2 linked regions of the Homo sapiens genome follow. The protein of the gene in region 1 purifies or fractionates together with the protein of each later gene. This does not show direct contact. Each region holds a gene or a part of one and is shown on either strand. Other genes may lie near its edges. The genes, in order: KYAT1 and MBIP.

What was found.
Region 2: the proteins of KYAT1 (region 1) and MBIP purify together in Homo sapiens (affinity purification with mass spectrometry; 2 studies listed by BioGRID and IntAct, with this or other methods). This does not show direct contact.

What each region holds. Positions count from the first base shown.
Region 1 is NC_000009.12:128,871,951-128,875,772, reverse strand, and holds part of KYAT1 (kynurenine--oxoglutarate transaminase 1), read left to right. Parts: intron 1-3,822. UniProt on the Homo sapiens protein: Catalyzes the irreversible transamination of the L-tryptophan metabolite L-kynurenine to form kynurenic acid (KA), an intermediate in the tryptophan catabolic pathway which is also a broad spectrum antagonist of the three ionotropic excitatory amino acid receptors among others.
Region 2 is NC_000014.9:36,303,625-36,307,446, reverse strand, and holds part of MBIP (MAP3K12-binding inhibitory protein 1), read left to right. Parts: intron 1-3,822. UniProt on the Homo sapiens protein: Inhibits the MAP3K12 activity to induce the activation of the JNK/SAPK pathway. Component of the ATAC complex, a complex with histone acetyltransferase activity on histones H3 and H4.

The sequences.
Region 1 (3,822 bases):
CAGATCTTAGATGCCTGAGAGCTACCCCAGAAGGGTCCTCGGCACAGCTATGGTCCCCATGCCTAGTGGTGCTGGGCCTCCTCGGTGCTGCCAGATCACCTGAGCTGCCTCCATTGCAGCAGTTATCCCACACATTTTTTTTTTTTTTTGAAGCGGAGTCTTGCTCTGTCACCTGGACAGCTGTCAGGCTGGAGTGCAGTGGCTCAATCTTGGCTCACTTCAACCTCTGCCTCTCAGGTTCAAGTGATTCTCCTGCCTCAGCCTCCCGAGTAGCTGGGACTACAGGTGCCCACCACCACACCCGGCTAATTTTTGTATTTTTGTAGAGACGCGGTTTCACCATGTTGGCCAGGCTGGTCTCGAACTCCTGACCTCAAGTGATCTGTCTGCCTCGGCCTCCCAAAGTGCTGGGATTACAGGCGTGAGCCACCACGCCAGTGAGCCAAGGTCACACAGCTGCACTCCGGCCTGGGCGACACAGCAGGACTCCATCTCAAAAACAAAAACCAAAAAAAAAAAAAAAACAAAAAAAAACAAATTGAACATAAATGGAATAATGGAAGAAATAGCTAGCTGTGGGGATGGCAACTCTGCAGCTGTTCACAGTTTGGGAAACCTGAGATCTGCATCCAGAGAAACTTCTTGAAGGCAAACTTATCAACATAAATGAGGAAAGTGGTTCTAAAGAAAAAGATAATGACCCAGAGGAAATAATACCAGCAAAACTTCACATTAAAGGAACTCCCTGGGCTGAGCGCAGTGGCTCACGCCTGTAATCCCAGCACTTTGGGAGGCCGAGGTGGGCAGATCACTTGAGGTCAGGAGTTCGAGACCAGCCTGGCCAACATGGTGAAACCCCATCCCTACTAAAAATACAAAAATAAGTCGGGCATGGTGGTGCGTGCCTGTAATCCCAGCTACTCAGGAGGCTGAGGCAGGAGAATCGTTTGAACCTGGGAGGCAGAGATTGGAGTGAGCCGAGATCACGCCACTGCACTCCAGCCTGAGTGACAGAGCGAGACTCCGTCTCAAAAAAAAAAAAAAAAAAAAGGCAGGATTATCTCACCACAAAATGTACAGAACAGGAACTCCCAGAGATATTTCACAACATTGAAAACAAAGGATGACTAAGGATGACTCGTATTCATCAAGACATAGAAGATGTCAGGTGCAGTGGCTTACACCTGTAATCCCAGCACTTTGGGAGGCTAAGGCAGGATGATTGCTTGATGCCAGGAGTTCAACATCAGCCTAAGCAACATAGTAAAACCCCCATCTTTACAAAAAAAAAAAAATAGCTGAGCATGGTGGTTCGTGCTTATTGTCTCAGCAACTCAGGAGAATGAGGTGGGAGGATTTCCTGAGCCCGGTAGGTTGAGGCTGCAGTGAGCCGAGATCACACCACTGCACTCCAGCCTTGGCAACAAACATAGAAGAAATGCTCATTCTGTATCCTAAATTAAACCACTGGAAGACTGCAGCACTGTTCAGTTCAGAATATTCTTTTTTTTTTTTTGGAATGAAGTTTCATTTTTGTTGCCCAGGCTGGAGCGCAGTGGCGTGATCTCGGCTCACTGCAACCTCTGCCTCCTGGGTTCAAGCGATTCTCCCGTCTCAGCCTCCTGAGTAGCTGGGATCACAGGCGCCCGCCACCACGCCTGGCTAATTTTTGTGTATTTAATAGAGACGGGGTTTCACCATGTTGACCAGGCTGGTCTTGAACTTCTGACCTCAGGTGATCCACCCGCCTCGGCTTCCCAAAGTGCTGGGGTTACAGGTGTGAACCACCACGCCCGGCCTCAGAATATTCTTTTTTTTTTTTTTTTTGAGACGGAGATTTGCTCTGTCACCCGGGCTGGAGTGCAGTGGTGCAATCTCTGCTCACTGCAACCTCTGCCTCCCAGGTTGAAGCGATTCTCCTGCCTCAGCCTTCCGTGTAGCTGGGATTACAGGTGTGCATCACCATGCCCGGCTAATTTTTTGTATTTGTATTTAATTTTTTTTTTCTTTTTGAGATGGAGTCTCGCTCTGTGGAGTGCAGTGCCGCTCACTGCAACCTCTATCTCTCGGGTTCAAGCGATTCTCCTGCCTCAGCCTCCCAAGTAGCTGGGATGGGATTACAGGCACCTGCCACTACACCCAGCTAATTTTTTTTGTAATTTTAGTAGAGACGGGATTTCACCATGTTGGCCAGCCTGGTCTCAAACTCCTGACCTCAAATGATCTGCCTGCCTACCGGCCTCCCAAAGTGCTGGGATTACAGGAGTGAGCCATCGCGCCTGGCCCAAGCTATTTGCAATAAAATTTTTTCCTTGATAAACTTTTATAACGAAAGAAAACGTCTTAATTTTCAGTGTTGCTAATATTAAATTACAGTGTACTAAGTTCTTATTAGTTTTTTTTTTTTTTCATTTTCTATACTTTTTTATTTTTAAATGACAGAGTCTCACTTTGTTGCCCAGGCTAGTCTCCAATTCCCGGGCTCCAGTCATCCTCTTGCCTTGGCCTCCCAAAGTCCTGGGACTACAGGCATGAGCCACCACACCTGGGCTACATTTTTAACAGATGGTAAGAGAGTTTTAAAAGGTCACAGAACAATTGTCTTATTAATTATTATTATCCAATAATAATTTTCTCGATTATTAAGTTCTCTTTGCACAATTTAAGTTTACATGGTCTTTTTTTTTTTTTTTTTTTTAAATGGAGTCTCACTCTGTCACCCAGGCTGGAGTGCAGTAGTGCGATCCTGGCTCACTAGAATCTTTGCCTCCCGGGTTCAAGCAATTCTCCTGCCTCAGCCTCCGAAGTAGCTGCGATTACAGGCACATGCCACCATGCCCGGCTAATTTTTTTTGTATTTTCAGTAGGGACGGGGTTTCATCATGTTGACCAGGCTGGTTTCAAACTCCTGACCTCAAGTGATCTGCCTGCCTCGGCCTCCCAAAGTTCTAGGATTACAGGCCTGAGCCACCACGTCTGGCCAACATGGTCTTTTTTTTTCTTTTGAGACGGAGTCTCGCTCTGTCACCCAGGCTAGAGTGCAAACGGTGCGATCTTGGCTCACTGCAACCTCCGCCTCCCGAGTTCAAGCTGGTCTCCTGTCTCAGCCTCCCGAGTAGCCGGGATTACAGGTGAGTGCCACCATTCCTAGCTACTTTTTGTATTTTATTAGAGACGGGCTTTCACCATGTTAGCCAGGCTGGTCTCGAACTCCTGACCTCAGGTGATCCGCCCACCTCGGCCTCCCAAAGTGCTGGGATTACAGGCATGAGCCACTGCGCCTGGCCTCAACATGGTCTTTTTCTGTTTTGCTTTGTTTTGTTTTTTTTGAGTCGGAGTCTCGCTCTGTCACCCAGGCTGGAGTGCAGTGGCACAATCTTGGCTCACTGCAGTCTCCACCTCCCAGGTTCATGCCATTCTCCTGCCTCAGCCTCCCGAGTAGCTGGGACTACAGGTGCACGCCACCACGCCTGGCTAATTTTTTGTATTTTTAGTAGAGACAGGGTTTCACCGTGTTAGCCAGGATGGTCTCAATCTCCTGACCTCGTGATCCACCCACCTCAGCCTCCCAAAGTGCTGGGATTACAGGTGTGAGCCACCATGCCCAGCCAATTCAACATGGTCTTTTTTTTTTTTTTTTTTTTGAGACAGAGTTTCGCTCTTGTTGCCCAGGCTGCCGTGCAGTGGCACGATCTCAGCTCACTGCAACCTCCGCCTCCCAGTTCAAGTGATTCTCCTGCCCCAGCCTCCGGAGTAGCTGGGACTACAGGCGTGTGCCACTATGCCCAGCTAATTTTTGTATTTTTTTTAGTAGAGACAGGC
Region 2 (3,822 bases), on another chromosome or scaffold:
ATGTATAATACCTGCCTTCTCTAAGTTTTGTTTTTTTTTTAAAGCAGTACCATATTAGAACTAAAATAATATCAAAGTGAGATTATACCAAAACTCCTATTTCTGAAAAATTATGTGAGATAGCCCATTTTAGCATGGATCATATAAGTTAGTGGTGAAAATATATTTAAAATTTATTTTAGGTATGACAGCAATCTTCCAAAGTTATAGATTGAGTATAAGAGTGAGTTACAGAAAAGAAGTATTTCCAGAAGAAGAAGGCAGGTCACGTAACAAAAGGGAGCAGCAAGTCCTAAATGACAAAATTTCAGAGAAGAGTTTTAGTGATTTACTACTCTCAAATGTAAAATGAGGTTTATGAAAATACTAAGGGCTGAAGCAAAGATCAAATGAGATAATGCTGATCAAACACTTAGCATACTGCTTAGCACATGGTAAAAACCTCATTGGCATTTATTTAGTTTTATAACTACAAAGTAGCTGTATAAACGTGGAAAAGTCACTCTATTCCTCTGATCTTCAAGATGTCTAATTTTAGAAAATGTATTGGTTGTACTACATAATTACAAAGGTCTTTTCACTTTTAGGATTATTCTTTGAATGTCTTCCTAGGAGACTTCATAAAGATTTTTAATGACTTTTCCTACAGTAGTCTACCATAAGTTTTTCCCATTCTAACTGCCTTCATTAAAGAAGGCAATAACCTAGGAAAGTTATTTTTCTAGTTCAATTTCATACCTTGTTAATATAATTCTTATTAACGATAGAACCGATCTTACAATAGAGTATGGTAAAATCAGATGCCTCCAATGAGAACTTGCTGCAGCATCATTCCTCTCTTCTCTCTGATTCTGATTTATAAAAACTTAACAGAGGCCGGATGCAGTGGCTCACGCCTGTAATCCCAGCACTTTGGGAGGCCAAGGTGGGCGGATCACCAGAGGTCGGGAGTTCAAGACCAGCCTGACCAACATGGAGAAACCCCATCTCTACTAAAAATACAAAAAAATAAAAAATAAAAAAAATAAGCTGGGCATGGTGGCGCATGCCTATAATCCCAGCTACTTGGGAGGCTGAGGCAGGAGGATCGCTTGAACCCAGGAGGCTTAGGTTGCGATGAGCCAAGATCACGCCATTGCACTCCAGCCTGGGCAACAAGAGCAAAACTCGGTCTCAAAAACAAAAAAAACAAAACTTATAGATGTGTTTAACAAAAAAAAAAGCCCTCCACATCATAATCTTTTTGTTTTGTTTTGATCTGTTACAGATAGGATAGAGTGGGTAAAGAGGTAGAAGTAGCCAGATTGTTAGGACCTTAAGTGCTATGCTCAGAAGTTTAAAATCTATTTTCCAGGCAGGCAGCAGGGGGAATCTACTGAAAGCATTTGAGCAGAGAAGTGATTTGTGAACACGATATTTAGAAAGATTTATCTAATACAGTTGTGGGAGACAAACGAGAGAAACTAAGGATAAGGAGATAGTATTATGCTAGCTTAGATGTGAAGTTAGTTCCTAAAATAGGGACATGAGTGAGAATGGAAAAGATTAATGCAAGTAGGAAAAAAAATGGACAAATACTGATGATTGGATGTGGAAAGAGACAGAGAACAAGGATAGAGTCCAGTTTCTGGTTGGAAAAATGATACCATCATTGATAGAAATAAGAAAATCTAGAGAGAGAGATACTTTTGTGGGAAATGTGAATTTGAAGGCAGAGGAGGTTATGAAGGTAAAAACATCAGGTAAGCTTTTTGAGATACGGCACTTACACTTGGGACAATTGGGAGAGTCTGTGTAGTGTGAGAGTCCATTGATGGATAGGAACACAGATTGTCTGAGGCCTGAAGTCTGAAGCTTGGTGACTGCCTAATTTCAGGGGCAGGAAGCATTTGTAAATGTAAACAGAGGATTGGCATATATGTATTAAGCATTCAGAAAAGGATGGATGGTGGCAACCTGTGATAAAACAGGTGATTTTTAAAAGTATTTCCAAATATGTTAAAAAAAAAAACTATATATCTTTTAGAAGAACTGCAGTTCTTCTGGATTAGTGTTGTAAGTGACACATTAAATTAGTAGTGAGCTACAAGGAAGAACAAAACACTGGAAAGTTTAAACATTCAGACTCATTCTGTCCTTTAGGCCTGTGAACATACATGACACAAGCCCTATGGGAAAGAAGATTTCATACTCATCACCCTTCTATAATAGGATGAATGAGCCATCTTTAGGAACCTCACTTGGAATACAGTCAGCTCTAAGAGTGTCCTTGCAAACAGGAGAAGTTGAGCACATACCTTACAGAGGACATAGTACATTATTCATCACCCTCACCATCATGCTGGGAGTACATGCATGGTAATTGCATAATTTTACATATTTATCCCTCAAAAGTATACAGAAGAAACTACATATGTAGCACAGTCCTATAGCTTCTAAAGATAGGAAAGGAAAGTTGAGCCCATTCAGTTTATTAAGGATTGAACTTTTGTTGGAACTCCTGAACTCTGAAAAGATTTTCATTGAAATGTGTTTATTCAGATTCACATGTAGATGAATTCTAAACATGGGGGAGCTTCTTACAATTGGATAGAGATTGATTATCATGGGTAACATTGAAGCGTAGCATAGAAAAACAAATATTTATGGGGAAAAAAGATGTCATTTGTATTTGTTTTATAAAATGTAATCAGATTATGTAAAGTTCTCATTTTACGACCAGACATAAAACTCCAAAATAAGTTATATGTGTATAAAACAGGATTTATGACAAAAGTTAATAATACTTGTTGGACATTTTGATATAAGAGTTCTAAAGATCTTTATTCTTCACATTAGCCATGGAAAGCTTTAAATGTAATGTTTTCAAAAGTTTAAGGGCATGGCCTTAACAGTCCATTTAAAAGAACGATCTTAGAGTATTTCCAAAGACTTACTGATTTTAAATTATGATACTTGAAAACAGTAAGTACCAACATGCTTTTACAAGTATATTGTTTAGTTTATAGCATTTATCACTCATATGTTTATACATGTTTTTCACTTTATATTTTGAAACTCTCAAGGGCAGGAACTATGTCTTGTTCATCTTTGAGACACAGAATGTAGTCAATATCGAGTAGATGTGCAAATGAATGGATAGGACTTGGCTGATAGCTCATTATTGGACTTTGAAGGTGTGTTAACTTTGTTCAAAGCACTGACTGAGAGTAATTTTTAGTCTGTAACAGTAACTCCTGGTTCTTAAGGGAAGTATCGGGGGAGGGGAATGCTGAAAATCAGGTCAACATCATGTACACAGGCCATGTGCGTGTGAACGTGTGGTGGGTCTGAAGCATGAGTGAACAACTGGATTCAGCTAGAAAATTAGATTGTAAACATATTTCAGAGGGCCTTGAAGGTCACACTAACCAGTTTGCACTTCTAGTATCATTGGAGCACAATTAAGTTTTAGAGAAAGAGAGAAACTTGTAATTTAGGTCCCTGTCTGGTGGCATTATGAAGTCTGAGTTGGAGAGAAATTGGAGTCAAGGAAACTAGTTTAGGAAACATGTCATTATCCAAGCCAGAGAGAAATGAAGGTCTGAATCAGGGCTCTGGGACTAGAAGGGAAGAAAAACATTTTAGATACTGCACGCATAGAATCAGTTGCCTTTTACAACTGAAAGAAAGCAAGCCAGTCATGGAAGAGGCCTCCTTACCCTTGAGTTTCCTTAGAGCACTGGTTCCCTGGATTCATATGTGTGTGTGCATGTGCGTGAACGTGTGTATGACAGTCATGCTCTGCATAAGGATGTTTCAGTCAACAGTCAACTGCATATA